2 separate regions of the Homo sapiens genome follow, and region 2 is linked to region 1. Evidence: fine-mapped QTL for protein levels in blood plasma. A gene starts in region 1. The other region holds a variant in brackets. All regions are shown on one strand. Distances are from middle to middle.

Region 1 (15,510 bases):
TTTCCTATTGTTTGTGGCTTTTGTTACCTATTTCTCTTATTTTTATTTTTGTTTTATTTTTTTGAGACAGAGTATTGCTCTGTCACCCAGGCTGGAATGCAATGGCACGATCTCAGCTCATTACAACCTCCGCCTCCCGGGTTCAAGCGATCCTCCAGCCTCAGCCTCCCAAGTTGCTGGGACTACAGGCATGCGCCACCATTCCCAGCCAGTCCTAGAATTCTTATGTTGTGCTTTTTTCAAATCTGCTGTCACTTTTTGTTCTTTCCAGTTCCCTGCCAAAAATGTCAAGCTTGACTTTTACCTCCTTGAGCACAGTAAGAATAGTTGTGTTAAGGCTGATCCTGCTATTTACAGTATATGGAGTCCCCACGGGTCTGTTTTGTTGTTTCTGCATATTCTTGCTTATTGAGTCTTCTCATAGATTTGGTTATCTTTGATTATATATTAGATGGTATTTGAAAAAACTACTTGTAAAAATGATCAGCTTAGGCTGATGCTATTTTCCTCCAGAAAGGATTTTTCACTAATATCTTTAAGGTACCCGAGGGTAGGGATGGGGAAGGTGCTGCCAGACAAGAGCCACTTTTAATTCAAGTTCAAAGCTTGAAGTTTCCTGGGACACCTAAATGACAGAAAGCTGGGTGGAAGTCCATGGTGGCCTGGTTTGTACAGCCTTTTGGGGTCCCAGCCTAATGTGACCAAAAATATGCCAGATTCCATTCCCTGCCCCCAGAGGGCCCTAGACTCCTAGTTCATCCTCTTCGCTGCTGCTTTGGAATCAGTAAATGCCCACAGGGAAAACAAGCACATACACTGAGCTTATCTTTCTGGCTTCCTGTCTACTTGCATGCAGACTTATGCCTGGGAACCCCCATGCTCTTTTTAGCTTTTCACTGCTTTTTTTTTTTTTTTAAGACAGTCTCGCTCTGTCACCCAGGCTGGAGTGCAGTGACATGCTCACGGCTGACTGCAGCCTCGACCCCTCAGGCTCAAGTGATCCTCCCACCTCAGCCTCCCCAGTATACTTTCTTTTTTCTTAATAAACTTTATATTTTGGAATAATTTTAGATTTACAGAAAAGTTGCAAAGATAGTACAGAGAGTTCCTGAACACCCTTTCCCCTGTTTTCTCTAATGTTAGCATCTTACATAATCATGATACATTTGTCAAAACTAAGACATGAACATTGGAATGTTATTATTAAGGAAATTCCAGACTTTATTAATCTTTCACTAGTTTTTCCACTAATATCCTTTCTCTGTTCTGGGATCCAGTCCAAGATAACACATTGCAGTTAGCCTTCAAAGTTTCTGAGAAGATTTGAAATTTACCTATCAGTAAACGTGGGCATTTACTGATTGAGCTCCTGAGGCATTACCAGTCTCCCATTACTGCCCTCCTCCATCATTTTCCCTGTCATTCCCCGAAGTAATTGGTTAACATAAAAAATTTGAAAGGGGCCGGGTGCGGTGGCTCACACCTGTAATCCCAGCACTTTGGGAGACCGAAGCAGGCAGATCATTTGAGGTCAGGAGTTTGAGACCAGCTTGGCCAACATGGTGAAACCCTGTCTCTACTAAAAATACCAGAAAATGAGCTGGGCATGGTGGCACGTGCCTGTAATTCCAGCTACTCAGGAGGCTGAGGCACGAGAATCGCTTGGACCCAGGAGGTGGAGGTTGCAGTGAGCCGAGATCGCGCCTGCTGTCTCAAAAAAAAAAAAAAAAAAAAAAAAAAATTGAAAGGGAGTTTTCAGATTTGTTTGATGGAGAAAGTTGAAAAATCGAGTTTGCAACCAGCTAGGGTAGGGAAGCTGCGAGGAGACTAGAGGATGAATGTATGACGGAAAACAAAAAGCATGGTGGTGGTCTACACTGTGCTACAGCAACTAGCAAACTGCAAGATCTCCGTGGCTAAACACAGAAAAGTCTATCTCTTGCTCATTCCAAGTCCGCCGCACGCTTGGTGGCTGTCCAGGGCAGCTGTCTTCCAAGTGGTAGCTCAGGAATCCAAATCTTCCTGTCTTGTGGCTCATTTGTCTTTGCCGGGGACACGTCTTCCCCACTCCTGATGTTTCCTTCCATGAGCAGAGAACCCCACTGGCACAAAACTCTTAGTCTCTCTCCACGCCTCTCTCTACGCCTCTCCACACCTCTCTCTACGCCTCTCCATGCCTCTCCACGCCTCTCTCCACGCCTCTCCACGCCTCTCTCCACGCCTCTCCACGCCTCTCTCTACGCCTCTCCACGCCTCTCCACGCCTCTCTCCACGCCTCTCCACGCCTCTCCACGCCTCTCCCCGCCTCTCTCCACGCCTCTCCACGCCTCTCTCTACGCCTCTCCACCCCTCTCTCCACGCCTCTCCACGCCTCTCTCCACGCCTCTCCACGCCTCTCTCCACGCCTCTCCACGCCTCTCTCCACGCCTCTCCACGCCTCTCCACGCCTCTCTCCACGCCTCTCCACGCCTCTCTCCACGCCTCTCCCCGCCTCTCTCCACGCCTCTCCACGCCTCTCTCCACGCCTCTCCACGCCTCTCTCCACGCCTCTCTCCACGCCTCTCCACGCCTCTCTCCACGCCTCTCCACGCCTCTCTCCACGCCTCTCCACGCCTCTCTCCACGCCTCTCCACGCCTCTCTCCACGCCTCTCCACGCCTCTCTCTACACCTCTCCACGCCTTTCTCCATGCCTCTGCTGATTTGATTGATGAATGTTGAAGGAGGAACAAGGCGTGTGTAACCCGGCTCTCTTCTTCCTTTTCTCTGGTGAGCTGGCCCACCTGCAAAAAGTGTGTGTTCTAAACTGATACACCACACCTCACCCTGAGTATTACGAGGATGGCCCAGCTCCACTGAGGAAAGAAGGACGCAGTTTTACCTGATTCTGGGGTTCAGCATTAGGTTCTGCCCACTGTCCTGTTTCCAAAACCGTGTTACTATGCCTGCATCAAGCTTATCCACCCGCGGCCCACGGGCTGCATGCAGCCAGGATGGCTTTAAATGAAGCCCCAAACAAACTCGTAAGCTTTCTTAAAACATTATGAGATTATTTTTTTAACTCATCAGCTATCACTGGTGTTACTGTATTTTATGTGTGGTCCAAGACAATTCTTCTTCTTGGCCCAGGGAAGCCAAAAGATGGAACACCCTGACCTACATAAACAATAAACATAACTTACACAAAAGTGCACTTATTTGTTCCACAGTTATTCATCATCTAAGACAGCAGTTCTCAACCCAGGGTATTTTTGCCTCTCAGTGGGATGTTTGACAATGCCTGGAGGCTTTTTTTTTTTTTTTTTTTTTGAGACAGAGTCTTGCTCTGTCACCCAGGCTGGAGTGCAGTGGCGTGATCTCAGCTGACTGCAAGCTCCACCTCCCGGGTTCACGCCATTCTCCTGCCTCAGCCTCCCGAGTAGCTGGGACTACAGGTGCCCGCCACCATGCCCAGCTAATTTTTTTGTATTTTATTTTTTTAGAGACGGGGTTTCACCGTGTTAGCCAGGATGGTCTCGATCTCCTGACCTTGTGATCCGCCCACCCCGGCCTCCCAAAGTGCTGGGATTACAGGCGTGAGCCACTGCGCCCGGCCTTTTTTTTTTTTTTTTTTTTTTTGAGACAAGGTCTCACTCCCATCACCCAGGCTGGCGTGCAGTGATGGGATCTCGACTCACTACAGCCTCGACCTCCCATGCTCAGGTGATTCTGTCACCTCAGCCTGTGTGTAGCTGGGACCACAGGTGCACACTGCCATGCTTGGCTAATTTTCTGTATTTTTTGCAGAGACGGGGTTTTGTCATGTTGCCCAGGCTGGTCTCAAACTCCTGGGCTCAAGTGATCCACTCACCTTGGCCTCCCAAAGTGCTGGGATTATAAGCATGAGCCACCTCACCCAGCCTGGAGACATTTTTGATTATCACAACTGGGAAGGGACTACTGGCATCTAGGGGGTACAGCTGGAGATGCTGCTAAACATCCTATAATTCACAGGACAGTCTCCCACAACAAAGAATTATCTAACTTAAAATGTCAACAGTACTGAGGTTGGGGAAACCTTGATCTAAGAGGAGCAAGTGACCCTCTTGGAGCAGCTGAAGTGATTTAGTCCAAGTCCAAACCGAGAGGAATTGGACCAGGGTGGCCATCGAAGACCAAGCAGCTCAGTCCCCTCATCCCTGCCACTGTACCTCTTGGGCACACAGAGGCCTTCCTGAGGATGTGATGAGGCTGTCACGAGCCCAGTGACCTGTCCAGGAGCCCTTGTGCCTCATTGCCTCTCCCAGGTGCAGTGATGGTGGGGCACCTCCCCATGCTTCTGGTGGGAAGCAGGACAAAAATATCCTCTCTTCTCAGATCCCCAGCCCACCACGGAGGTCTGTCTGTTGGCCCCATCTACCCCAGAGTGTGGCCTAAGGTGGAACTAGGTGCGAGGCTCATGCCAGCACCTCACTTTCACCCTTCTCCCCAGCCCTTGCTCCACTTCCCAGTCTGGTGAATCTGTTTCTAATGGAGTTCTTGAGCCAGCCTCCTGGGCTAGGTGTGGGGCTGGGAAATGGAGGGGAAGGACCTTCAAATATGCAGGAAGAGGGTAGGGATCCACTCAACATGCTCTTTATATAAATAAACATTTAATAACACCTCGCTTACTCTCCTAAAATGACAATCATAAATAATATGCCTTCACAAGCACTTACTTCTTTAAAATCACACTATAGTGCCTGAGCTATACTAGGGAGAAAAAATAAAAGGAAAGCAATTTATAACCAAATAACACATATTTCAATCTGTCAGTGCTCAGGTCCCATGACACTAGAAAGCATAATGAAGTGTCAGATGCTCGTCCTTGCATATAATAAATAAGTCTGAATTTAAGAAATGTAGAGGATCAGAAATTATTCTGTGTAAGGACAAAAATAAATAAATAGAAGAGCAAAGATATGCTATCAAATGCTAGAATAAGTATTACTTTAAGGCCGGGCATGGTGGCTCGTGCCTGTAATCCCAGCACTTTGGGAGGCCGACGTGGGAGGATCGCATGAAGCCAGGAGTTTGAGAAAAGCCTGACAACATAACAAGACCCTGTCTCTACTAAAAATAAAAAATTAGCCAGGCAACAGTGGTGCACGCCTGTAGTGCCAGCTACTTGGGAGGCTGAGGTGGGAGGATCACTTCAGCCTGGGAGTTTGAGGCTGCAGTGAGCTGTGATGGCGCCACTGCACTCCAGTTTGGGCAACAAGAGTGAGACCTGTCTCAAAAATAAGTAAATAAACAAATACTTTTTTTTCTTTTTTTAGATAGAATTTCACTCTTGTTGCCTAGGCTGGAGTGCAATGGTGTGATCTCAGCTCACCACAACCTCCACCTTCTGGGTTCAAGCGATTCTCCTGCCTCAGCCTCCCTGAGTAGCTGGGATTACAGGCATACACCACCATGCCTGGCTAATTTTATATTTTTAGTAGAGACTGGGTTTCTCCATGTTGGTCAGGCTGGTCTCAAACTCCCGACTTCAGGTGATCCACCCGCCTCAGCCTCCCAAAGTGCTGGGATGACAGGCGTGAGCCACCATGCTGGGCCATAAATATTTTTTAATCTGTGTTTTTTTAAAACTGCAAAAACAGATCACCTTTTGTAGTCTGTACATGTAAAAGAGAGTCAGGGGCTGAGATCATGGTAACAGTTTTCCCCACCGTGAACAGCTGGCCCTGCCCACTAAATGGCAGCAGTGCTTCGCAGTCATTGTGAAATTAAAACACTTCTCCCCACGTTACTAGACTCACACACACACAATCTTCCCTCCCAGAACCACTGAGTTAATGCTTCAGATATTAACCTGACAAGTCAGTAAAATTCCAACTGAACATTTGGAAGGATATATGCCAAAATATTAATGGTGCTTTTCTAAAGCAGAAGGGGAATTACAAGAAGCACTCCCTTTTTTCTTTCTTTCCTTTTTACGTTCTGTATTGTGTAAAATTTTGCTTACAACCTGTATGAACTTTGCAACCAAACCAAAAAAAAAGTCATTTTTGAAGCCAGTGTGTCAGAGCTCCCAGTAGTGTACATGTTTGTTTTGGTCCTTTCAAGGAGGATTCAAGTCTGCGATGGAGAAACCACCAATTCACTTTTTCAAATGCCAAAACAACTCCGCAGGCGTGGAGGAGACCTATCTTGCAGCGCTGTAGGCCCAAGGCACCAGGGAATCCGGTCCAGCTCAGCCCTACAGCTTTGCTCAGCCCCGTCTGCACCGCCGCCCCGTGGCCAAGGGCAGTACTGCGTCCTCCAAAAGGCAAGGGCGGAGGAGGGGCCAGGGGCCTTGCCCCAGGGGCAAGCTTCTTTCTGTCCCACTGACCACATGGCAGTCTGGTGAAGTTTATGGACCCCTCTCTCAGTATAATGGCGGGTAAATATATAAATAAAATATATATGCTGGAAAGAAAACTAATACTGGTGAGATGATTCTTAAAACTCTTTATAAATGTGTAATATAATAATAGCCGTTTCATTATTGTAAATAACCAGCTCTAGGGGCAGGTCTAGGAACTCATTGTTTTCCAAGCAGTGAGGGGTATACACGACGTTTCGAGATATCCACAACTTGATGTGCCAGTGTCTGTGATTGTAATTGGTAACAAAGTTGCAGGTACTGCTAACAGTACACTCTGAATAAGAGGAAAAGCTAAATATTAGAAGTTGATGAAAGTCAATATGTAACTTTTTCCCATGCGAATTCGACTTACAGACCCCTTAGGGCGCACGGACCACAGGTTAAGGCCCCCTTGAAGGGGCACGAGTTTAGGAGAAACTCTGGTGTGGGTTTTCAGTCCTGGAAGGTGAGCCCTGGGGTAGGCACGCGTGGGCGCTCAGAAAAGGGAAGGCAGAGGCGCCTCCCCGGCTGGGCCTGCGGAGGGATGACCCACACGCCCCTCCCCTCGCTTCCTTGGCCTGGTTTCACGCGACTAGAGAAAGTTAAAGACCCGTGTGACTGAAGAGGAGCTCACAGTTCCCAGCGTCTGCTCCCACGGTGTCCAGCGCCCAGAATGCGGCTTCTGGTCCTGCTATGGGGTTGCCTGCTGCTCCCAGGTGAGATGGGGAGAGGGTCTCGGGAGGGATGTGGGGCTCACCCTTGTGGTCTGCAGGGAAAGGACCTCTTGACTGACTGATAGCCCCACCCCACCTATCCTCAGCCTCCTCAGCCCTAGGGGAGCGGGGCGGGCTGGGGGTGGGGGGAGGTGGGGGTGGCGCCGGGGCCGCACTTGCTGTTTCTGGAACCTAGAGCCAGGTTTTCTCCAGACCTGTGGGTTTCCCCTCATGGCAATGTGGCTGTGAGAGTTGCTTTGCCTCTCTAATCTTAATTTTTCTACCCTGTGCCAAGCCTGGAGGCGGACAAGACACCCCATCTGGTTGCCCTGTTAAACTCAGCAAATATTTGTTGAATTTCGGCTATGCCTCTCCCCACAACCCTGAAAGATGAAGAATTATCACGTTTCATCAATTCTTTTGCTTTCTTTTTCTTTACCTTCTAACACTTAAAATCAGGATAAATCCTACAACTGATGTCAGTTGTTCAGTTGGCAATAGTGAGACCCCATCTCTACAAACAAACAAACAAACAAACAAACAAAATTAGCCAGGCATGGTGGTGCACACTTGTAGTCCTAGCTAGTGGGAGGCTAAGGTGGGAGGATCGCTTGAGCCCCAGAGGTCAAGGCTACAGTGAGCCATGAGCACCATTGCCCTCCAGCCTGGGCAACAGAGTGAGATCCTGTCTAAAAACAAAACAAAACCAGGCACGGTGGCTCACGCCTGTAATCCAAGCTCTTTGGGAGGCTGAGGCGGACGGATCACAAGGTCAGGAGATCAAGACCATCCTGGCTAACACGGTGAAACCCCGTCTCTACTAAAAATACAAAAAATTAGCCGGGCATGGCAGCACGTGGCTGTAGTCCCAGGTACTCAGGAGGCTGAGGCAGGAGAATCACCTGAACCCGGGAGGCAGAAGTTTCAGTGAGCAGACATCGGGCCACTGCACTCCAGCCTGGGCGGCAAAGTGAGACTCCATCTCAAAAACAAACAAACAAACAAACAAAACAAAACAAAACACTCAGAAACCCTGCTGGCTATCTGGCTGTCAGATTCTATCTGAATCTAGAACGCCACCCCTGCACCCCAATTCCTCAATGGGCCAGGGTTAGGGAAACAGCAACAGCCCTGCCCCAAGTTCCCCCAGCGTGGGAGGTTAGTAATGGCTCTTCCAAGGCTGTCCCCAGAAGGGATGACTGAGAAAAGCCTTCCTTCTTCCTCCTAAAATGGAAGCTCTGGCCTTGACCTTGGTACATGGAGCCTGGTTTTTCCAACCTCCACTCCTGCTCTGATTTTAGGTTATGAAGCCCTGGAGGGCCCAGAGGAAATCAGCGGGTTCGAAGGGGACACTGTGTCCCTGCAGTGCACCTACAGGGAAGAGCTGAGGGACCACCGGAAGTACTGGTGCAGGAAGGGTGGGATCCTCTTCTCTCGCTGCTCTGGCACCATCTATGCAGAAGAAGAAGGCCAGGAGACAATGAAGGGCAGGGTGTCCATCCGTGACAGCCGCCAGGAGCTCTCGCTCATTGTGACCCTGTGGAACCTCACCCTGCAAGACGCTGGGGAGTACTGGTGTGGGGTCGAAAAACGGGGCCCCGATGAGTCTTTACTGATCTCTCTGTTCGTCTTTCCAGGTAACAGATATCTCTCCTTCCCCAGGCTGGGGACAGGAGCTGCAGAGGGAAGAGGGAGGGGTGGTGGGGCATAATCCTGGTACCAACATTATGGGCACTGAGTCCTCAGGGAGATCATGCAGGTCAAGCACCGAGCAAGGCTTGGGGCACAGAAGGAGCCGCCTGAGTCTTGGCCATTGTCTCACTCTTGCTGCCCGAGGTCACACCAGTAGTAGATGTCAGAGCAGGACCGGACCCAGATCTGTCCAGGGCTGGGCTCGGCGCCTTTCCTTTCTGCCCAGGTGTGCTGGAGGGAGATTTCCATAGGCTGGGTACAAGATAGACATATCAGGGGATAAAGAAGACTCCTCGCCTGGTGTCAGAGATATTCCTGAGGCCTCCCGAGGCTGGGCCAACCATTGCTGCATTCCAGACCCAGCCCACAGCATCACCCTGGACATGCTGGCCTCGCCCTGCTTGTGCCCTCAACTCTCCCCTCCTGGCCTCCACCTCCCCAGATATTGAAGTCCAGCCACAGGTGCTAGAGTGCCTGGGAACCAGCCTCTGGGTAGGATGCCTGAAGGAGGGATCGTTAAATGCAGGGACACTAGGGGGCCGGGGCTGGAGCTATGGGGCCTGGGTAGGGGATAAAGCACCTCTCTGGGAGCCCAGAACCCCAAGTGGACCTGCTGAGCTAAGGAGAAAGAAGCCAGAGAGGGCCCAGGGGAGTGGGAGCCTTGGTCTGCTGGCCAGTGTGGGCGAGGTACATCTTTGTATCCCCATTTCACGGATGAGGGACTGAGGCTCCAAGAGACTAAGTGATTTGCCCAAGATCTCACAGCAGGAAGTGATGGAACTGGGATTCAAACACAAGTCGTTTCCAGCTTTGATGTCTGCTTTATTCCTCTCCTAGCCCCATAGCTGGGACCTATCCCAATCCCAGGCCCATCCCTACCACCATAGCCCCTATTTTTTTTTTATTCCTTTATCCATGGATCTTTAATTTGAGGAAATAAAGTTAAACTTGCCAAATAGCAGCAGCATCGAACCACATTGAATCTGTTCTTCATTATTTACAAGATTCTCTTATCTCTTCCAATTCTTATCAGTGTTCACATGTCATTTCTACCAGTTATGATCAAGTTCGCTTGTGTTTTAGGTTTACCCTCATTTGTAATTCTTTATTTGTGTATGACATGTGTATTGCTATATTATCGTCCTATATCGGACTCTATTGGCCTCTCTCTGATGGCAGTTGGGATGTTGAAAATGAAGAAGACTGACGACAGTGATGTGCTGGTAAATGTTTAACAGGCTGGGGATGCTGTCATTTTGTGGTGTTTTCCAATTTCTGTGGTGTCCATTTCTGTGGTCCAATTCCCATGGCCAATTTCCAGCCATCGACAGTTTAACACGATCTCACCAACTCCTGAAAAGTTAACAGTGAGCTCTTGTGAGTCAGTGCGAGCCATCTCCAGCACACCATTGAGTATGGTGAACCATGAGAAGAATTTCTAAGAAAGTCAGAAAAAGACAAATGTAGCCACTATCATTTCTTTTCTTTTTATTTATTTATTTTTATTCATTCATTCATTCATTCATTCATTCATTTTTCTGAGATGGGGTCTCACTCTGTCATCCAGACGGGAGTGCAGTGACACAATCTTGGCTCATTACAACCTCTGCCTCCCAGGCTCAAGTAATCCTCCTACCTCAGCCTCCAGAGTAGCTGGGACCACAGGCACAAGTCACTATGCCTGGCTACATTTTGGTTTTTTGTTTTTTTTTTAAGATGTGGTTTCGCCATATTGGCCTGTCTGGTCTCAAACTTCTGGACTCAAGCCATCTGCCTGCCTCAGCCTCTCAAAGTGCTGAGATTACTGGCAGAAGCCACTGTGCCCAGCCAGCCTACTATCATTTTCTTTTATTCATCTTTGCCTGAAGGCCCTAGGCAATGAAATATGCAAGATTAAGAAGTATAAGTCCCGGCATGGTGGCTCACGCCTGTAATCCCAGCACTTTGGGAGGTCAAGGCGGGTGGATCACGAGGTCAGGAGTTCAAGACCAGCCTGGCCAAAATGGTGAAACCCCGTCTCTACTAAAAATATAAAAATTAGCCGGGCATAGTGGCAGGTGCCTGTAATCCCAGCTACTCAGGAGGCTGAGGCAGAGAATTGCTTCAACCCGGGAGGCGGAGGTTGCAGTGAGCCAAGATCGTGCCACTGCACTCCAGCCTGGTCAACAGAGCCAGACTCAGTCTCAAAAAAAAAAAAAAAAAAAAAAAGAAGAAGAAGTATAAATGTTGGAAAGGAAAAGATAAATACTCTGTATTTGCAAAAGATTTGATCATCTACTTAGAAAAATCCAAGAATAAACTGACCTAGTGTTACAGATTGAGTATCCCTAATCCAAAAATGCAAAATACTCCAAAGTCCGAAACTTTTTGTGTGCCAGCATCACACACACAAAGGAAATGCTCACTGGGGCATTTTGGATTTCAGATTCCTGGATTAGGGATGCTGAATCGGCAGATATAATGCAAATATTCTGAAATCTGAAACACTTCTGTTCCCAAGCATTTTTGGATAGGGGATACTCAATCTGTAGAAGAGAAAGTGGTGGAGAAAGAGGGAGAGTCCAGGATGGCACACAGTCAGCAAGGACTGGGGAAGTGACAGATGGACTTGGGGAAGTGGGGACCGGAGTAGCTCCTGGGGAGTTGGTTGCATCAGGCTTCTGCCCACTGTGCTGGGCACAGAGGACAGGAATTTTTTTTTTTTTTTTTTTTTTTTTTGAGACGGAGTCTCGCTCTGTCGCCCAGGCTGGAGTGCAGTGGCGCGATCTCGGCTAATTTTTTGTATTTTTAGTAGAGACAGGGTTTCACGTGTTAGCCAGGATGGTCTCGATCTCCTGACCTTGTGAGCTGCCTGCCTTGGCCTCCCAAGAGGATAGGCATCTTGCCTTTAAGGAGTCTCAGCCTAGCAGGGAGACCCAGTACACAAGAAATTGCAGTGTAAGTGAGCATTAGCGCCACTGGAGGCACGCACAGGGGACTGTGAGTGCACAGAGGAAAAAGAGATTCGCTGCTTCCAGGGAAGACATTACAGAGGAGTTGACCTTGAGCTTGTGCTGAAGGACAGAAAGAAGTGCTTTAGGCAGAGATGGAAAGGAAAGGCATCGCACACAGAGGAACAGCATGTCCAAGGCACGGAGGTGGGCAGGAGGCTGGTTTAGTCGGGAATAGAGGATGACTCTATGGCTGGAGCACCGAACAGAGAAAGAGGCGAAGCTGACAAGGTGGTTCAAAGCCTCAAAGCCTGAGTTTTGTTCTTTGCTTTTTTTTTTTTTTAGAGACGAAGTTTTGCTGTTGTTGCCCAGGCTGGAGTGCAGTGGCGCAATCTTGGCTCACTGCAATCACCGCAACCTCTCCCTCCCGGGTTCAAGCAATTCTCCTGCCTCAGCCTCCCAAGTAGCTGGGATTACAGGCATGCTCCACCATACCCAGCTAATTTTGTATTTTTAGTAGAGAGGGGGTTTCACCGTGTTGGCCAGGCTGGTCTCGAACTCCTGACCTCACGTGATCCACCAGCCTTGGCCTCCCAAAATGCTGAGATTACAAGTGTGAGCCACCACACCCGGCCTGAAGCCTGAGTTTAAGAGGCCTCGAAAGGCATACTAAAAAGTTTGAACTTTGGCTTTTAGGCAATGGAGAGCCAGTGACTGTTCTAAGGCAGAGAGGGATGGGATCCAACACAGACTTTTGAGACAAAACTGGAGTAGTGTGAAGGGTGGCAGGGAAGAAGCAGGCTGAGAGGCAGGTGGGTTTGAGGCTCTGAGCTAGGCGCGAGGCCAGGGGGCTGCAGGAGTAGAAGACCAGGGATCTGCTGGAACCCGCCACGTGGCTCCTGGTTGGCCGAGGCGAAAGATGGCAGTGCTCTGTGCTGAGGTGGGGGGTAGGAAAACTGCCAGCTGCTCCCAAGGAAGGAAAAGGGGTTCAGAGCGGTGCCACCCCTGAGAGCAGCCTTTCCCTTTCCTCTAGGACCCTGCTGTCCTCCCTCCCCTTCTCCCACCTTCCAGCCTCTGGCTACAACACGCCTGCAGCCCAAGGCAAAAGCTCAGCAAACCCAGCCCCCAGGATTGAGTGAGTGAATGGCAATTCCGCCCCTTCCCTTGCCACCCTTCTTACAGAAGCAGCCAGTGAGTGCCTGCCTGGTACCAGACACAATAGTTTATGGCCACCTAGGTGTCCCCACAAGCCTGGGAGCTGGGTTGTCCAGCTGTGGAAGTGGAGGCTCAGCAGGGTTAGGTCACTTGCTCAGGGTCACACAAGAAGTGCCAGATCCCAGAAGTGGTCACAGCCTGACCCCAAAGCTCATATTCTGTCTGCGCCATCCAGAGTCTCGGGGGCAAGCCAGAAAGGCCAGGCCTTGGGCCCTGACCTCTGGACTCATCCTGCCACCCTGCCCTTCCTGGTCTCATGGCTGCAGAAGGAAGTCAAGGCCTTACTGAGGCACGGGTGGTTGGGGAGGGGGCACATGGTGGTGAGGGGAGGACCTGCCCTTCTGGTGAGGAAGGAGGTGACAATTGACTGGGACTGTAGGGGGAGGGCAGGAAGGTGTCCACTGAATGGTCACTGGAAAGGGTCATGGAAGCGGGGAAGGGGAGTGCTTATACCTCCTCACAGAGGCAACAAGCTGTGGGCACAGAAAGAGACTGAACATCATGCACAGCTGTGGGGTGTGCCTGATCTACGGTCTCCTTCCTCAAAGTGGCTTCATCTAGATCTGTTTGCTTACTGGGGTATCCTTTAGCTGGGGATGTTCCGAGAAACGGGTCCCAGGGAGGCTAGGGTTCAGGGGTCCAGGGTCAGAAGTCAGGGATGCTGGGATGCAAGGGTCAGGAAGGATGCTGAGGCATTGCTTTTGGACTTGTAGCTTCTCCTGGGCTCTACCCGGCAGCCACCACAGCCAAGCAGGGGAAGACAGGGGCTGAGGCCCCTCCATTGCCAGGGACTTCCCAGTACGGGCACGAAAGGACTTCTCAGTACACAGGAACCTCTCCTCACCCAGCGACCTCTCCTCCTGCAGGGAGCTCCCGCCCCCCCATGCAGCTGGACTCCACCTCAGCAGAGGACACCAGTCCAGCTCTCAGCAGTGGCAGCTCTAAGCCCAGGTGAGCCCCAGGTGACCAACATCCCCTTTCAAGCCATCACTAAACCATAAGGTGCCTTTGAGAAAATAGGAACTCAACACTCTTTCCTCTAAGCGGACGCATCCTCTTGTCATGGCCACAGCCTGCAGCACAGAGAGTCCCTCACAGGGGCCCTTGAGCAGTGGACAGCTTGTACTATAGGAGCCAGCAGCTCTGCTGCCTGTCCAGTGTGAAGGGTCCACCAGGATCCCAGTCCTGACCTCTCTCCCTGCCCCAGCCTCAGGGACGGCCACCCCAGTTCTGGGGCTTTTGCCTGTATACTTTGCACTAAGCCCTGTGCCAAACATGAAAACTCAGAGTCCAAAAGAAAACAATTTTTTGCCTTACAACTGGAGTCCCAGCCTGAAGGATTGGTTCTTGGGGGTTGTAAATGCACTTGGCTACCGACATCCAGGCAGCTGCTGGCAGGTTCAGGCCCTGCTGAAAGTGAATCCTGGGTTGGCAATGGGGGCGGGGATCCGTTCCACACCTGACAGGGCTGATGGGACATCGTGGTCCCTAGTGCCCTCTGATCTCCTTGGGAGAGAGAAAGGACATGGCTTGACTCACAGTAAGAATGCCAGGATGCCCCACATGCCAGTGACACCAGCCCAGATACAGGCCACCGGGAACTTCCCCACACACCACTGCATGACCTAACGAGTCGCTCATTGCTTCAGGTGTCAGTTTCTCCAGTGTGAAATTGATCCACTCCTACCTAGTTATACAGGGGTTGTGGAATTTAACAGCTAACATTGACGTGGTGCCTGGCATGTGTGTGGCACTGAACTATGCGCTTTACACATCCTCACCCATTTGATCCTCACCACAGCCATTTTACAGAGGAGGAAATTGACACCCTGGGAGGTTTAGTCACTTATCCAAGGTATAGAAAGGTGGTGGAGCTAGAGTTTGAACCTAGACAGCCTGGCTCCGGGGTCTGCGCTAATTACATAATGTTTGTCAAGAGCCAGTAGCACTAAATACCACCCCCCCGCACCACCACCCCCCACAAGTCTCTGCTGCATTGAATTGGATTCCACACTAGGGATTGGCTTTCTCAGCCTGTGCCTGGGACCCCCAAAGGACATAGACTCTGGCTTATCTGGTAACAGCCACTAGGCTCCTTGCGTCTCGTCTCCAGGGTGTCCATCCCGATGGTCCGCATACTGGCCCCAGTCCTGGTGCTGCTGAGCCTTCTGTCAGCCGCAGGCCTGATCGCCTTCTGCAGCCACCTGCTCCTGTGGAGAAAGGAAGGTGAGCAAAGGTGGGCGGCAGGAAGGCGGGAGGCTCACTGGGCCAGGGACCTCACTGAGACCTGCAGCTCCCCATCCAGCCCTGGAAAGACCCTGTGGGTCTCAGCGTGTCTGTCTGAGATATGAGCATCAGGAGCTGTGGCCTCCCTTCTGAAGGAGCCACGAGGTAGTCAACATTAGGAAAGTAATTCACAAGGGGAAATGGGAGAATGAAGGGTTCTCAGCTTCTTCCTGCCTGTCTAAACTGATCAAGCACTTCTCTACCTATTGATCCCAGGGAATTCATTGCCAGCTCCTTGTGTGGGAACCAACTGCCAGGGGCAGTGCAGGACCAAGCACTTGAATTTGAGCAGGACAGACATTGTAACCC
Region 2 (15,510 bases), 32 kb before region 1:
GGATCATTTGAGGCCAGGAGTTTGAGACCGGCCTGGCCAACACAGAGACACCCTGTCTCTATAAAAAAATTTTTTTTAATTGGCTGGGCATTGATGGTACATGCCTGTAGTCTCAGCTACCTAGGAAGCTGAGGAAGGAAGACTGCTTGAGCCCAGGAGTTCAAGGCTGCAGTGAGCCATGATTGTACCACTGCACTCCAGTCTGGGCAATACAGCAAGATCCTGTCCCCAAAAAAATAAAAGGCTGGGCACAGTGGCTTACACCTGTAATCCCAGCACTTTGGGAGGCCAAGGTGGGAGAATCACTTGAGCCCAGGAGTTCAAGACCAGCCTGGACAACATAGTGAGTCCCTGTCTTTAAAAAAATAATAATAAAATAAAAAGTGTATCAACGTGGACAGTTAAAACTGAGAATTAGTATGAACTAGGATTGCATCAAAATCTTGACTCAGCGGGAGCTTCCTGACCAAGGGGAAGGATCCGAGAAGGCCTCCTTCAGATGAAACCAGCTATATAGGACAGCAAGTAAAGTCTATTCTGGGACTGAGTTGCTTCTGACTGCCCCCACCACCCACAACAACTTCCAACTCATTCTGCTAACTGACCCTGTTAAGAACCAAAAAAGATGAGTCACCAAGCCCACACCTCCTGGAAGAACTCTGTCAAATATTTAGGTTTTGGGTGAGGGTCTCGCCATCCTGACATAGACTGGGCTGAACAAAGAATCTATGACAGTGAAACAGAAGTTCATTTAGGACACATCAGACGATCTCATCCACTAGTTTTAGAAATCCCTTCATTCACTGATGATTCAAACTGGTTTGATAGCAGTGATAATGACCTTGTTAGTTGGGGTTTCAATTTAAAATACTTGGATTTGGCCTAGGAGTATAGTTTGATGAGTACAGTCTGTCACACTCAGATGAGGTCCCTGACAGGTGTCACATTTTGCGGGAGGGCGCTTATGTGAGGGAGTGGAGGGGCGTGAGCCCAGGCAAAGCCACCTGCCTGGTTTGGGAGGCACTTCCAGCTGTTCACCTTGAGCCTTCTGGCCATGTAATCATCTTCTCTTAAGTTTTTCAATAGGCAAAATGGAAAGACAATCACATGTAGAAGGTGTGTCCCGCATCCCTCTTCAGCTGCAAGCACCCTTATGCAGCTAGAAGCGTTCCTGTAACAGCCTCCCTTAGGCCTTCAGAAAAGAAACAATCAACTTTAAACTTACAAATGGGGCTGCTGTGTCCTCACAAGCTGGGGACATAGGTGGCGTTTTTCTTTTTTCCTGAATTGCAGGCTTTACAAATATAATATAGGGTTTAAATTCTGAGGTCCTCAGTTGTTTCAGTGCCTGAGAAAGAAAGTTCAGGAATATTATATACTTTTGAAGTGTTTTGTTGTGAAATAGACTTTTGAAAGCTCAATAATCGTGTGCTTCAATACCATAACCTCAACAGCAAAGGTCCTGGTTACATGGGTCCCATGACAATGGACTTCAACTGGGCAGACCAACTGCTCCTTTTCTCATCCTTCACTTTGACGTTGAACTCAGCGGGGCCCTGAAGTCACACTCACTGCCAACAGAAGGTTCCTAAGCCTCAGCTCAGAGACAGTTGCTGTCTCTCTTAGCTCTGACTCCTCCGGCTATAATTAACCTTCTCAGGCTCCTCTCCACCTTCCATTTCTGATGGGTGAGGAAGCAGGAGTCAGTGTGTATCTATTTAGTCAAATGTCATCAATCGGACTACATTATTACAAACTTTGTGCTATTACATCTCCTCTTGGTATTCAAAGAAGAAAAGGTTTGCAAAGCAAATGAGATTACTGAACAGATCATTTAAAACTGTAGACTGTAGAAACTGCACTCTTGGGCCAGGTGCGGTGGCTCACACCTGTAATCCCAGCACTTTGGGAGGCCGAGCCGGGTGGATCACGAGGTCAGGAGATCAAGACCATCCTGGCTAACATGGTGAAACCCCGTCTCTACTAAAAATACAAAAAATTAGCCAGGCGTGGTGGCGGGCACCTGTAGTCCCAGCTACTCGGGAGGCTGAGGCAAGAGAATGGCGTGAACCCGGGAGGCGGAGCTTGCGGTGAACCAAGATCGCACCACTGCACTCCAGCCTGGGTGACAGAGCAAGAATCTGTCTCAAAAAAAAAGAAAAAGAAATTGTACTCTTGATTAATGCATTTTATCTAGAAGTAAGGGCTCCACTTGGAAACACTAGTATTAAACTGCTATATGCATTATCTGCACCCTTGATCAATAAAGTGATCAATAAAATCACTTTTCAAAGAAAATTTTGAAACTCAGACTTTTAATTTTGATCACTAACTCCCTGTAAGTCCAAATGAGTGTTTTCCTTTATAGGCATAACGTGCTTTTTGGAATATATTTCAAGCAAACTTCTTTAAAATAAAGCCTACAGTTTATAGCATAAAATCAGAGATCTGTTTCTATAGAGGGGAAAAAAAATCCCCAGATTGAGTTCAAAGCTTGGAAGTTTTTCTAAAAGACAAGGTTAAAAAGATGGTTAAGCCCCTGCTGAGTCCACAGCATGCTGGGTGTGCAGGAGTGGAAATGTTTTTGAAGCACTTCCCAGGGCCGTGTCTCCCTCCCTCTTTTTCCCCTTTAAACTGCTCTCCTCACTGCCTCCCTGAGTGGTTCTCTAAGCCACTGACTCCACCTGCCCTGGTTGGGGAGGGGGAGGCCTGGCACCGAGAGCTCAGCCCCAGTTTCACCTGGGTACTGACATCTAATTCTCTGGCACATTGCAATGGCCAGTCAGCGCCACCAACTATTGCATGATCTGTTCCACGCAGGAGTTACTAGCCTGGGTCTGTGGGCCACCAGAGTGTCCACAAGCTCCCTACAATTAATGCAGCATTTGTGGATAGAGGGGCATGTTTTGGGGTACAAGGCTTTCATTTGATTCTCAAAGGAAGACCCAAAGAAATTGAACAGCCAGTGTTCTAGACTAAAAATTCCTTAGACTGAGGTTAAGTGTTGTGTAAAATGTACAATCCCCTAGTTATAAATTCCGTTAACCAGAAATGGCCAGCAGGCCCAGCAACTCACTTCTGGCTCCACATCCACCAAACAAACTTTGTTTTTGGCCATAACAGCCTGAATGGCCTCCAGGCTGGTTCCATACAGATTTTCCTTATATTCACCATGTTCCAGGAACCTAAAACACCACCAAAGGGGAAAAGGCCTTTAGTTCCTCAGCTTTCCTAAATTAGCAAAGCAAAGGGGACCTCCCAACATGACTTCTCTCCCGCTTCCCCCATCCTTTCCGGGAGTCCTCCCAGGAGCTCTAGTGGAATACAGATACAAAAACACACAACTGCCTGGAGGGCCAACTGGCCCATCAAGCAACGTACTTGTTGTGATGTAAGTCGGCCTCAAATGCTTGCTTAGACACAAAGTGATATTCCACTCCTTCCTTCTCATGGCTCTTTCGGGGCCTGGTGGTATCTTTTAAAGAAAGAAGGAAAGCTGGGCAAAGAGATGTCACATCACAGCACGCAGGGACAGCAGCAGGCTTAGGCACTCATTTGGGAGTTCACTGCTGCTGTGTCTAAACCAGGCACTTCCACCTCATTGCATGTCCCTGTATCAGGCACTGTGCCTTTCCAGGCAGGCGTATCACTGATTCACACAACAACTCTTTGATGTAGGCAAAAGGAGGCTTTTCCTTTTGCAGCTGAGAAAACTGAGGCACGGAGAGGTTCAGCACTGTGCACAGTGACCCACAACCAGTAGAGAGCACAGCCAGAATCGGTCTCTCTGCCAAATGCCCAGCTTATACCCTTAACCACTCTGCTAACTGACTCCCTGATGCTGTGTTTTTTTTTTGTTTGTTTTGTTTTGTTTTTTGTTTTGAGACGGAGTTTTGCTCGTTCCCCAGGCTACAGCGCAATGGCATGATTTCGGCTCACTGCAACCTCTGCCTTCTCGGTTCAAGCGATTCTCCTGCCTCAGCCTCCCGAGTAGCTGGAATTACAGGCATGTACCACCACACCCGGCTAATTTTGTATTTTTAGTAGAGATGGGGTTTCTCCATGTTGGTCAGGCTGGTCTCGAACTCCCGACCTCAGGTGATCCACCCGCCTCAGCCTCCCAAAGTGCTGGGATTACAGACATGAGCCACCGCGCCCAGCATATGCTGTGGCTTTTAAAGAATCACTTAAGGGACCCCTAGTCCTAACTTTTAATTCTTCATTGTTTTTTATTTTTTGAGAGCAAAGGAGCCACACATACACTTGACCCTGATGTATGCTTTTAATTCTTTAGTCAATTAGTTCTCATCTCCAGAAAAAGGAGACAGGAAGACAGACCGTCCCTATATAGATCGGATGTGTTTCAGCAAGGCTGGCTCTCAAACAAAAATGTTGAAACACATGGTGTTTTCTCATTGATTTCCATAACAGAATTGGGATGCACACTTCTGAGGAAAATCAGGTCTTCTGCAGAACAAGGGCACACACAAAGCCACACACACAGTATTTTCCAAAAGATAAAATGGGATCTTGAGGCACTGTGTCTTCTGGCCCATGGGAACCACCCAGGGTATGCCCTGTGTTCTTTCTGTGGCATCTTAGTCCAACCTCCGGTAGAGGTGCTAGGGTCACTTTTCCAACCATGTCATCCCCCTGCTTAAAAACTTGTATTTATCTATGGGTTACATTCTAAACACCCTAGCTGAGTATCTGAGACCTGCGTGATCTGCCCAACCTCTCAGCTCCATTTTCCAGCACACCATCCACACTAATCTCCCCGGTCCCCAACACTGCTCCGTCCCTTTGCACATGTTGTTTCCTCTGTAAAGAGAACTATTCCTTTCTCTTCTGCCTGGAAAACTCCTATTTACTCTTCAGAACCCAGCATAAAAGTCACTGCCTCTGGGAAGGCTTCCCTGACTCCCCCAGTTTCTAAAACAAAGGAGGAAAGTCTCCTATCTGTGGAGTGCCTAGAAGCAGGTGGGCCTGACCATCCAGGTACCTCTTCTCCAGGGGGTGGATCCAAGGGGTTCTGAACGATCAGTGTGTGAGCAACCTCTGCATGTCCTGTTTCAGTCCACCTGAAACTTGGAAGGCCGTGGCTCCCTGAAGCCCTCCAGGTCCATCACAGGTGTGCTGCCAGGATGGCCTCCCCAGGGCCACCACCTCCCCCACATCCCTGCCACTTCAGATTGGGCTGTGGAAGACAGCTCTGACAACCCACAGACTAGACGCTGGGCCCAGGGGCCCAGGGAGAGCGGTGTGATCAAAGCAAGGCTTCATGGTTGCTCTGCCCCAGAACACTCTGAGGAGGCCCCATTAGGGCCCCCACAGCACCCCTCTCAGTAGCCACCAGGCATTCACACTGCATCCCTCTGAGGCCAGGGGGACTGAGAGTGAGTCCCAGAAAGAAAAGGGGCAGCCAAGGGCACGAAGTGGGAGGCGGCAGGTGAGAGGCCATTGTGCATCCTCGTTAAGAACATGACTGGGGCAGGCTGCCTGGGTATGAATCCTGGCTCCACCACTTACCAACTGTGTGACATTGGACAAGTTACTTAACCTCTCTGACCCTCACTGTCTTCCTCTGCCACACAAGATGATAACAATCTCTCTTCTCAGGGGTACTGGGAGGGCTGACGCAGGGCACTACACATAAAAGCTCTTGGTGCATTACCTGGCACCTTCATTCTCCTCCTCCTCATCCTCCTTATCACATTCAGAACCAGGATCCTCTGCCCACTGGAGCTTGACATCCCAGGGTGCCCCTGGCAGCAGTAAGCCCCAGGAATTGGCAGGGGAGGCATCACCCAGGAATGTACCCAGCTACCCTGACAAACTGGAATCTGGCTATAAGGGAGTGCCGAGAAATACCACTCACAGGGCTCTGTGGCTTCTCTGACCTGCCCTCTCATCCAAGCAGAGGGCAGCGGCCACAGGAGTCAAAATTCACTGTGATGAGGAGGAATGCCCCCTACTGTGGGGGCCCCGTGGTGTCAGGTTGAGGCTGCCACTTTGCCTACAATGTGCTCTGGACTCATCTCCCACCCCAGGCAGGAACCAAGCAAGTGGTCCTCCAACTTCTGCCTCAGAGGGTCTCAGAGGACCACTGGGAGTGGATTTCTTCCCATCATGCCTTTGTCCCACAATTTGCCAATAGCAGGCAGTGCCTGGTGATCCTTTAAACCCAAAGTAAGGATTTGGATGGATCTGGGGAGTTAAGTCTCCATGGAATATTTGTGTGTGTGCAGACAAACACACACTCCCACATGGGCCCTCTTACGTGGAACAGCGACGCCAAAGTGCTGTGGGTTCTCAGCCACCACCTTTTGCTTCAGCTCGTGCAGTCGGGCTCCCAGAGACCCTGGGAAACAAGAAGAAGGCTGACCAGGGTCCCTGCTGAGCTCCCTCCCCACCTGCTCCAGGGAGGAAACCAGATCACTTCCTGGAAACCCAGGATGGCACCTACCGATCAGAACCACCAGGCGGGGCCGCTCTCCGGGCTGGTGTTGGTACCTGGCCACCTCTTCGTAAGTCAGCAGCTCCGGAGACTCAGCTCCGGAGGACATCTTTCCTTCCTGCGAGCCACCCAGTCTCTCCCTACAGCCCAGCCGGAAGCTCCTCCGAAGACCAGCTTGGGAGGAGGGGCAGAGGGACACCATGGCATTTGTCCCAGTTGTCCCAGGATCTCCCAGTAGAGACTTTTCCCACCTGGCCAGACCTGGAGATGGGACTGAGTCCCACTGACTTCTCCCAACCTCCTCCTGCTACTGGAAGAGGTTGTTCAGGAAATACAATAATAAGATGAAAGGGTGACCCCTGCATTCACAAACTAGGGCTTAAGGTCACTGTTTTACTTGGCATGTGACTGACCTTGGACAAGTCCCTTCATCTCTCTGAGCCTCAATTTCCTTACCTGTGAAATGAAGATATGAATCTACAACTACTATGTGTGGTCCTAGATTAGATCCTGGACCAAGGGAAAATGTCATAAAGGACATGATGGGGACAATTGTTAACATTTAAATAACAGCATATAACAGATTTGGATACATTTTAAATTCTCAGAATTTGATCACTGCCCTGAGAAAGTCCTTGGCCTTAGGAAATACATGCTGAGAGATTTAGGGTTAAAGGGACACGATGTCTACAACTAAGTCTCATATGACTCAGGAAAAAAAAATTCAGAGATGTGGGAAAGGAAATTGAGCAAACATGGCAAAGGAGCAACTGGTGAATCTGGGTGTGGAGTATATGAGAGTTCTTTGTATAATTCTTACACCTTTTCAGTAAGTTTGAAATTACTTCAGGACAAAAGTTAAGGGGCTGGGTGCAGTGGCTCATGCCTGTATCCCAGCACTTTGGTAGGCCAAGGCAGGCAGATCACTTGATCTCAGGAGTTCAAGACCAGCTGGGCAACATGGTGAAACCCTGTCTCTACAAAAAATACAAAAATTAGCCAGGTATAGTGGCATGCACCTGTAGTCCCAGCTACTAGGGAGGCTGAGAGGGAAGAATCGCTTGAGCCTGGGAGGCTGAGGCTGCAGCGATTTGTGATCACACCACTGCACTCCAGTGTGGGTAACAGAGCAAGACCATATCTCAAAAAATAAGTTTAAAAAAAGTTTAAAAACTTTTTAGAAAGGAGGATTGCTTGAAGCCAGGAGCTTGAAACCAGCTGGGCAACATAGCGAGACCCCATCTCTACAAAAAAAA[T/A]TTTTTTAATCAGCTGGGCATGGTGTCAGATGCCTGCAGTCCCAGCTACTCAGGAGGCTGAGGTGGGAGGATTGTTTGAGCCTAGGACATTGAGGCTGCTGCAAGCTGCAATGTCACACACTACTGCACTCCAGCGTGAGAGACAGGGCAAAACCCTGTCTCTAAAAAATAACCAAAAAACAAAAAAAACTTTTTGCCTATCTCTAAGACCTTTGAAAAAACTGACCAAAACAAGTGAAAAGGGGCTCTGGAGAGCCGCAAACACCCCTCACTGCGTGGTAGTGGTGTTAATATTGAATAAACTCCAATTGCAATGATGGTGATAATAGAATTGGTATTAATGTAGGGGTGTGTGTGCCTTTCCCGCCAGGGCAGTGTGCCCCACAGCTGGGTAAAAGCTGGGTGGGGGCCCAATGCCTGGGCAGGCTCAGCTCCTGCTTGGGTTGAGAGAACTGAGGAGAGATGGGGGTCCCATAGGCTCCACTGCTCCAGAAGGACTCCTGGGGCTCAGATCACCCTGCTTTGACCTCTCCCTAACTCTGGGGCCTTGGGTGGGGCAGGTCGTGCATGTGGGTGTCAGGGGGAGCTACTTACCCACATAGTGCCCTTTGAGGTAGCCCTCACAGTCACAGGTCTCTGGGAAGCAAACAGAGGGAGGGAAGCCAGTGAGTCCCACCAGACACATCCGGCCCAGGGCACCCAGCCCCTGGATGGCCAGGCAGGAAGAGCCCCCTGGGATGGTGTCTCGTGGGGAGCTCAGGGGAAATCCCATGTCCTGGACACCCCAAGAAAGCAAGGTCCTCTGTTTTGCTCAGTTCTCCATGCTTAGGCCCCTAACAGCCTTTCCAGGCCCTGAGGGGGATTCTAGGCCAGCAGGCCTCCCCAGTCCCTGAGTGTGAGCAGTGTGAATAGGGAGGGATTCACTCCAGCCTGCCCTGCCCTCCCACCCCTTGTCTCCTATCCAGCCCCATCACAGCGTAGCCGAGTCCTGGAAAGGCTGGGCCGCACGTGTCAGGAGGGCAGGGAGGTGCCCCTAAGGCCTTGAACCCTGTCCCCACCAGCTTTGCCTGCCTCAAGGAACAGCCCAGTCCAGCTGGCAGAGCAGGAAGAGGTGCGCAGACAGTGGGAGGGGCACAGCTGCCCAGATAGGGAAAGAACACGAGCCCCTCAGGCCCCAGACGTTCCACGGAAAAGGGGCCACGCCTGTGGACAGCGGATAGATACTGGGCCTACCTTTGTCACAAGGCTGATCATCTGCGGTTTGCACAAAAGACAGATGGAACAGCATTAGTGGAGGGAAGCGGGGACCCTGCGGCTGAGGGCAGCCACGGCCCGAGTGCCTGAGGAGCCCGCCATCTGGCCTCTTTCCCTTTCCTCCAACGAACCTGTGATCTGAGCTGTGGTACGTTATTAAACCCCAAGACCTGCTCTAATTAGTCTTCTTGTATGTGTCTCATTAGCACCAGAGAAAGCCAGCTCATCAGTGGCACAGCAGCCTCAAGGCCACTGCCCTTCTAACCTGACAGCAAGTCTGGAAAAGTGGCCATTGTCAGGGGCCCAGGGAGCAGCTTACTCTAGGATCCTGCGGTGGGAATAGGACCCACTCTCTCTTTTCTGGGGTTGGAGTCTGGCCCTGGAAAACGCAGATGCCTGAGGATGGAGCGGGGTGGAGCAGAGCTGCAGGCCATCTGTGTTCTGGTCACCTGGCACCTGCTCAGGCCGCTCACTCGGTTACAAGTCTGCCCTCTAGTACCAGAGAGACCATGCTCTGGAAAAGCTTCCTCTCTGCACGGGGCCCTACCCTGGGGCTCTGATCACAGGCCTTCAGAAAATGTGACCCCAACTCTGCTCACTTAACCTTGTGACCCTACATATTCCCAGCTTAGAAAAGATAGCTGACTCTACCGACTTCACAGGGTTCCAAGAAGTAGGTGGACATGTTTTCTAAAGTGTAAAGTGCTACACGGTGTAGAGTTGCCAGATAAAATGCAGGACACCCACTTAAACTTGAATTTCAAATAAACAACAAGTAACTTCTTAGTATAAGTATGCCTCAAATATTGCACAGGACATACTTATACTATAATAAAAACTACATAAAAACATACTTATACTAGAAACCAATCTGTCATCTATCTGAAATTCAAGCTTCAACTGGGCATCCTTTATTTGTATTTGCCCAGTCTGGCAATCTGGCAGCCCTACCAGAGGCACCAGGTCACACATGGCCTTCTCCATTCCCTTCCAACGCCAGTGCTTCTTCCATTTTCAAGGTCAGAGAGCCCTTGGGAATCTAACGAAAGCTGTGGATCCTCACACGCACATGCACACGCGTGTGAACACACACACATCTGCACATTTTGGGAAAGCTGTTAACATACCCCCCAGCATCATCTATGGACTCCAAATATACAAGCTCCTCTCCAGGGACTAGCTGCCCCCCACCTCCTACTTCCCACCCCCTCCTTCCTCTGGAGTCCATGAGCTCAGACAAGACCCCTGATGCCCCCTCCAGCCCACTGCCTACTTCTTCCCAGCCTGAATCCTCCCTCGCCCTAACCCCGGGCCCTCCCTGGAGTGCCATCCCTGACAATCTACTCACAGGGGGGCTTCCTGAGGCTCTGGGGGCTCGGCAGGGTGCCCGCGGCTCTCCGGTAGCTTAGTCGTCTGCAGGGACACAAGGGGATGGGCGGGCCCGTGAGCTGGGCCAGATAACCACTTGAAAGGAACCTTCTGGAAAACTTGGGAAGCCAAGGCCTGGATCCCACAGGTGGGCACACACTGGACACTCTGAGGGCCTCCTGCTTAGCACTAAGTTCCAACGAAGGGAACACTTTCACAGGGCTCACTGGCTCACCAGGAGGAAGAAACTGAGTCTCTTGCTCCAGAAATAGCTCATCCAGCTCAAGATGGCCACACAGGATCCAGCCCGGTGTACAATCCTCAGCTGGTCATTACTCTCCTATGGCCAATTTCTAAGGAGAGGCAGCCCCTTCTCTACTCCCCAGCCTCCCCATCTCTGAGGGAGCTGAGAAATAGCAGAATGACTCCCAGGAGAGGCCGAGGACAGAAGTGACCCTAATTTAACACCCTCCCCTCAGCGGAAGGCTCAGCCCGGGCAGACTGTCCAATGTGGCCATGAGTGGAGAGGTGGGGCTCTCAGAGGTCACTAGATTTCCACATTTAAATGCAGCTGAAGGGCCGGGCGTGGTGGCTCACACCTGTAATCCCAGTACTTTAGGAGGCCGAGGCGGGAGGATCACTTGAGGTCAGGAGTTCGAGACCAGCCTGGCCAACACGGTGAAACCCCGTCTCTACTAAAAAATACAAAAAGTAGCTGGGCATGGTGGTGCACGTCTGTAATCCCAGCTACTCGGGAGGCTGAGGCAGGAGAATCCAGGAGAATCACTTGAACCCGGGAGGTGGAGGTTGCAGTGAGCTGAGATAGCACCACTACACTCCAGCCTGGGCAAGAGTGAAACCATGTCTCAAAAAAAAAAAAAAAATGCAGCTGAAGAGCTGTCCCCCACATCCTCTGGTAAGATGTTGCCAAGACCTGTGAACCCTAAAATGGAGATGGGTCTGGGGTTCCCGAGGAGACAGAGCTTCGTTCTCAGACTTCGGCATCTCAGAATCGCCTGGAACATTTGTTAGAATGTGAGTTTCTGGGCAGGACCCATGGATCTGCATTTCTAACAAGTCCCCAGGTGACGCTGAAGCCCCCAGCCAGGGGGCCACACCTTGAGGGCCACTGAAATGGGTGAACCCCAAGGTCCTGTCCTTACCACAGTCCACACACCAAAAGATGTGAGGGCTACAACCCACAGTGGAAGTCACAACTGCCACCCTCTGACCCAAGACTGACCTTCCTGGAAGTCTAAAGAAATAATTTGAAACATGAGGAACAGTCTATGTGCAAAGTAAGTAAGTACTGCAGCCTTATAAAAGTGAAGAATTGGGAACAACCTAATCGAAGTGCAGCCACAGGAAAGCAGTGAAATCACTTAGCTAGTTCCTCTGAGAAGCCTTCCCTGCATTCCTGGATGAGGGCGCAGCCTCCTAATATGAACTCACACAGCACCATGTCCTCCTCCCTTGCACCCATCACGTTTATATAAACTGTGTGTTTGAAGAGCGTCTGGCTTTTCCACTGAACTATAAGCTCCTCCAGGGCAGAAACCCTGGATTCACAGCAGCCCGCAAGATGCCAGCACAAGGCCAGCTCAATTCATCCTAAATACCTGCCGCCTAGGAATGAATGGCACAGCTCCTGATGAGTTAGTATACAGCCACTAAAATCACACTACAAAAACGATGCTATAATATGGAAAATACTCACGCCAAAAATGTTTAAAAAAAAAAAAAGCAAGACCCCAAATTCTGTATGCAACACTCACATAAAAAGCACAGTAAGGAAACAAACTATGCAGTTTAGATAAGGGTGAGACGTGGGGAATTTCCTTTCATAGTCCTCCTCTTCAGTTTTTTTCTGTTTTTTTGTTTTGTTTTGTTTTGTTTTTTGAGTCAGGGTCTCACTCTTACTCAGGCTGGAGTGCAGTGGTGTGATAACAGCTCACTGAAGCCTTGACCTTTTTGGGCTCAACTGATCCTCCCACCCCAGCCTCCCGAGTAGCTGGGACTACAGGTGTGTGCAACCATGCCCAGCTAATTTTTTATTTTTTGTAGAGACAAGGTCTTACTATGTTGCCTAGGCTGGTCTTGAACTCCTGGGCCCAAGGGAACCTTCTGCCTCGGCTTCCCAAAGTGCTGGGATTACAGGCGTGAGTCATCACCATGCCCAGCCTCTCTTCTGTATTTTTATATTTTGTTTATCAGCATTCTCTGAGCATGCATTATAAAATATACATTAACTTAGGCTGGATCCAGTGGCTCATGCCTGTAATCCTAGCACTTTGGGAGGTCAAGGCAGGTGGATCACTTGAGGCCAGGAGTTTGAGACCAGCCTGGCCAAACCCTGTCTCTACTAAAAATACAAAAATTAGCCAGGCATGGTGGTGCACGCCTGTAATCTCAGCTACTCAGGAGGCTGAGGCGGGAGAATTGCTTGAACCCGGGAGGTGGAGGTTGCAGTGAGCTAAGATTCGCCACTGCACTCCAGCCTGGGTGACAGAGGGAGACTCTGTCTCAAAAAAAAAAAAAATACACACACACACACACACACACACACACACACACATTAACTTAATAACATAAATTTCCATAGATTCCTTTAAATCTCAAATAACCATCATCACTAGTTATGGGAAAAGACCAAACACAAGTGCAACTGGTACTTACCTTGGGGGAACAATGCTCAGCAGGCCCCTCTGGCTGTGAGGGCAGAGACTTGGGGGTCTGCCATGTACCTGTGCCTCTGCCACTCTGGAACCAGCCCTTCACAACATACCCCAGACCCACCTCTCCTGGAACCCCTTGGAGGGGATGAGGCCGGCTCGAAGGTTGGTGTCCCCGACTCGCTTGGCCTGCCACCACGTGGGGTCGTCCTGGCTCACCACCTCCAGGACCTGCCTGCGCTGGAAGGGCAGGCCCGCCTCCTGGCAAGGGATGGCCCGGTCCTCCCGAGGGTTGTAGTGGAAGAGGGCGCGCATGAACACCTGCACAAGGAGGGCTCTGGTGAGGCGGCCCTTCCCCAAGTGAGCACAGACAGGTCATTGTCACATCAAAGGCCACATGACAACGACCATCCACACTTAGGAGGACCAAGTGGCCTTTCAAATAGAAAGCTACTTGGAAATACACTGCACGTATGTTCTTAACTGTTCTTCAACCATTTGGGATACTATAGTCAGGAAGTCCATCAAGAATCAGAAAATTAATAAGCCCCATGACTGAATGTCTCTTTCCTACCTAAATATTTCCTTATTTACTTGACCAGCTGTCCTCATAACAGCCTCTTAGCATACACACAGCAACAACTAATCCTGGGAACAAAAAGTAAAGGCAAGCACAATTTCTAACTCAAGTGTTATTTTTGATACGCCAACTGCGCTGACGGAAGGCAGCAGCCATCTGTTATATAAGTAATCTAGATGTTTGGGTAAGAACACAAATATCAACAAAACTACTGTTACTGACTCCTCACCATCACTTTTCAGTGGGTAATTGACACCCACAGCTCTTACGGCTCAATCCTGCCTCGTCTGCCATAGACTCGGCCAAGCCCTAATTCCCCCCTCTGCTCTAGAGTCACCCTCTCTGGAGAAGATGGTGTGAGGACACAGCATTTTTCACACTTCCTTGTTCTCTTCGATAATTTAGTGGCATGGATTAACTTTATTTATTTCTATTTTCAGACCATTAGGGCCCAATCACTTCAGTGGCAAACAGGAAAAAAAAAGCAATCAGGGGTCTTCCTCAGACAGATACAAACTCTATTCCTTTGTATGCCAACCAGAAAAGATTCCACTGGACAACAGTAAGAACTTTCTGGCATATGTTGTGGGGACAGATGCCCTTAACCAGCCACAGATGTTACCAGGGTCCTAAGCACTCAGAAGAATGTAATCTTAAGTGGCCAGCCCAAATCAAGCATCTGGATCAAGAAGAAATATTCAAGAAGGACAGGCTGGGGGACAGGCTACTCATTTTGTCCTTTAGGAAAACCAAGTTCTCTTCCTCAAAGAGGTTTCCTCAAGTCAGAACCCTCAAAGTTGCATGTGCGGACCACATTCGCTTGTCCTAGGAAGAATCACTTTCCACCAGGTAAGAGGAAATATTATGCCCTGGGATTTAACCAAAGAGCACAAATAAGAAACAGCTATATAAAGATTATTTCTTCACTTGCTGTAAAAAACTGTCATTGAAGACGTAGTCCATTACAAATCCACATTCTTCAAAGTATCGACTGACATCTCCTCTGTGCTAGATGCTGTAATGTTTCTTCTTTCATGCATTAAGTACTGAGAGGCAGGTATGGGAATGTCTTGAAAAACTGGCATGCTTCCTTCCATTCTCTGCTCAACAGTATGTAATTCATTATGCTCTCCTTTTTGCCTTGGCTGCCAGGAAACTCTACTATGAAATCAAAGTGATGCCCTCCTCTCTATCTCATCAACCACCATCTCACAGTTCAGGTCTTAACGTCTCACCTGGGCTTTTACAAGAGCCTTCTACCAGGCCTCCCTGCCTCCAACCTCTACCCACTCCACCCTCCTCCCCGTGGCTGCCTCACGGAGCTTTCTAAAACACAAATATAACTGCACCACTCCCATCCTAAAAAAAAAAAAAAAAGAGCTTATTAGAACCTATGGGATTATCTCTTGGGCTGTGGGATGCCCTCCCATATGCCCCAGGGCTGGACCATTCAGTGCAGCCTGGGCTGACTTCCAGCTGCCAGCACCTGCATCTCTTTGCCTAAGGACTTACTTTCTCTGGCCACTGGAACCTACTCATCTCTAGTCCAGCAGGCAGAAGTTGCTAGGAATTAATCCCCCGGGTGCAGCCTGGCAGGAGTTGGTATATAGATCGCCCAGCTCCCAGGGCCCCTGGGTGGGATGATGGAGGCGTGTGTTCTACAGGGGAAGAAGTAGTTCCCCAAGTTCCCAGCAGGACTAAGCTCCAGCTGCCCATAGTGGTAACCTGCTTGATAACACACCCTTAGTCAGATTGGCTGTCTTCCCTTTCCCAGTCCTGTACTGGTATTTCCTGGGGCCACTTCCCAAATAAACCATTTGCATTCAATCCTTGTCTCAGGGTCAGCTTCTAAGAGGCCCCACACTAAGCAAGGATTATGCCAAAACCCTTAACAAGGCATTCGAGGCCATTCAGAACATAGGC

Alleles and levels. Alleles are on the strand shown, and positions count from the first base shown. The strength of an association depends on the size of the effect and on how common the allele is.
For the plasma level of the protein whose gene starts at base 6,998 in region 1, allele A in region 2 goes with a lower level than allele T (moderate association).

What was found. PIP is the posterior inclusion probability: the model's chance that the variant is causal. The UK Biobank Pharma Proteomics Project read protein levels with antibody pairs (Olink). The fine-mapping took linkage between variants from a reference panel, not from the people measured, so its PIPs are less certain.
Region 2: its variant is fine-mapped to the plasma level of the CD300LG protein (UK Biobank, PIP above 0.99).

The regions. Positions count from the first base shown.
Region 1 is chr17:43,840,179-43,855,688 of GRCh38, forward strand. It overlaps CD300LG (CD300 molecule like family member g), which reads left to right and starts at 6,998. Exons shown (of 7, transcript NM_145273.4): 1 at 6,998-7,081; 2 at 8,380-8,715; 3 at 12,734-12,835; 4 at 13,629-13,866; 5 at 15,029-15,141. The coding sequence starts at 7,039. LOC107984979 (a long non-coding RNA gene) reads left to right here. Exons shown (of 3, transcript XR_001753057.2): 3 at 6,086-6,297. LOC107985077 (a long non-coding RNA gene) reads right to left here and starts at 14,412. Exons shown (of 2, transcript XR_001752896.2): 1 at 14,233-14,412; 2 at 9,572-10,123.
Region 2 is chr17:43,807,731-43,823,240 of GRCh38, forward strand. MPP3 (MAGUK p55 scaffold protein 3) reads right to left here. Exons shown (of 20, transcript NM_001932.6): 11 at 13,132-13,328; 12 at 10,316-10,380; 13 at 8,947-8,967; 14 at 8,308-8,349; 15 at 6,467-6,631; 16 at 6,281-6,361; 17 at 3,382-3,475; 18 at 3,077-3,185; 19 at 1,226-1,348. Among named protein-coding and RNA genes, the nearest start is that of MPP3, 18 kb to the right of the region's middle. The variant T/A (reference allele first, on the strand shown) is at 7,714.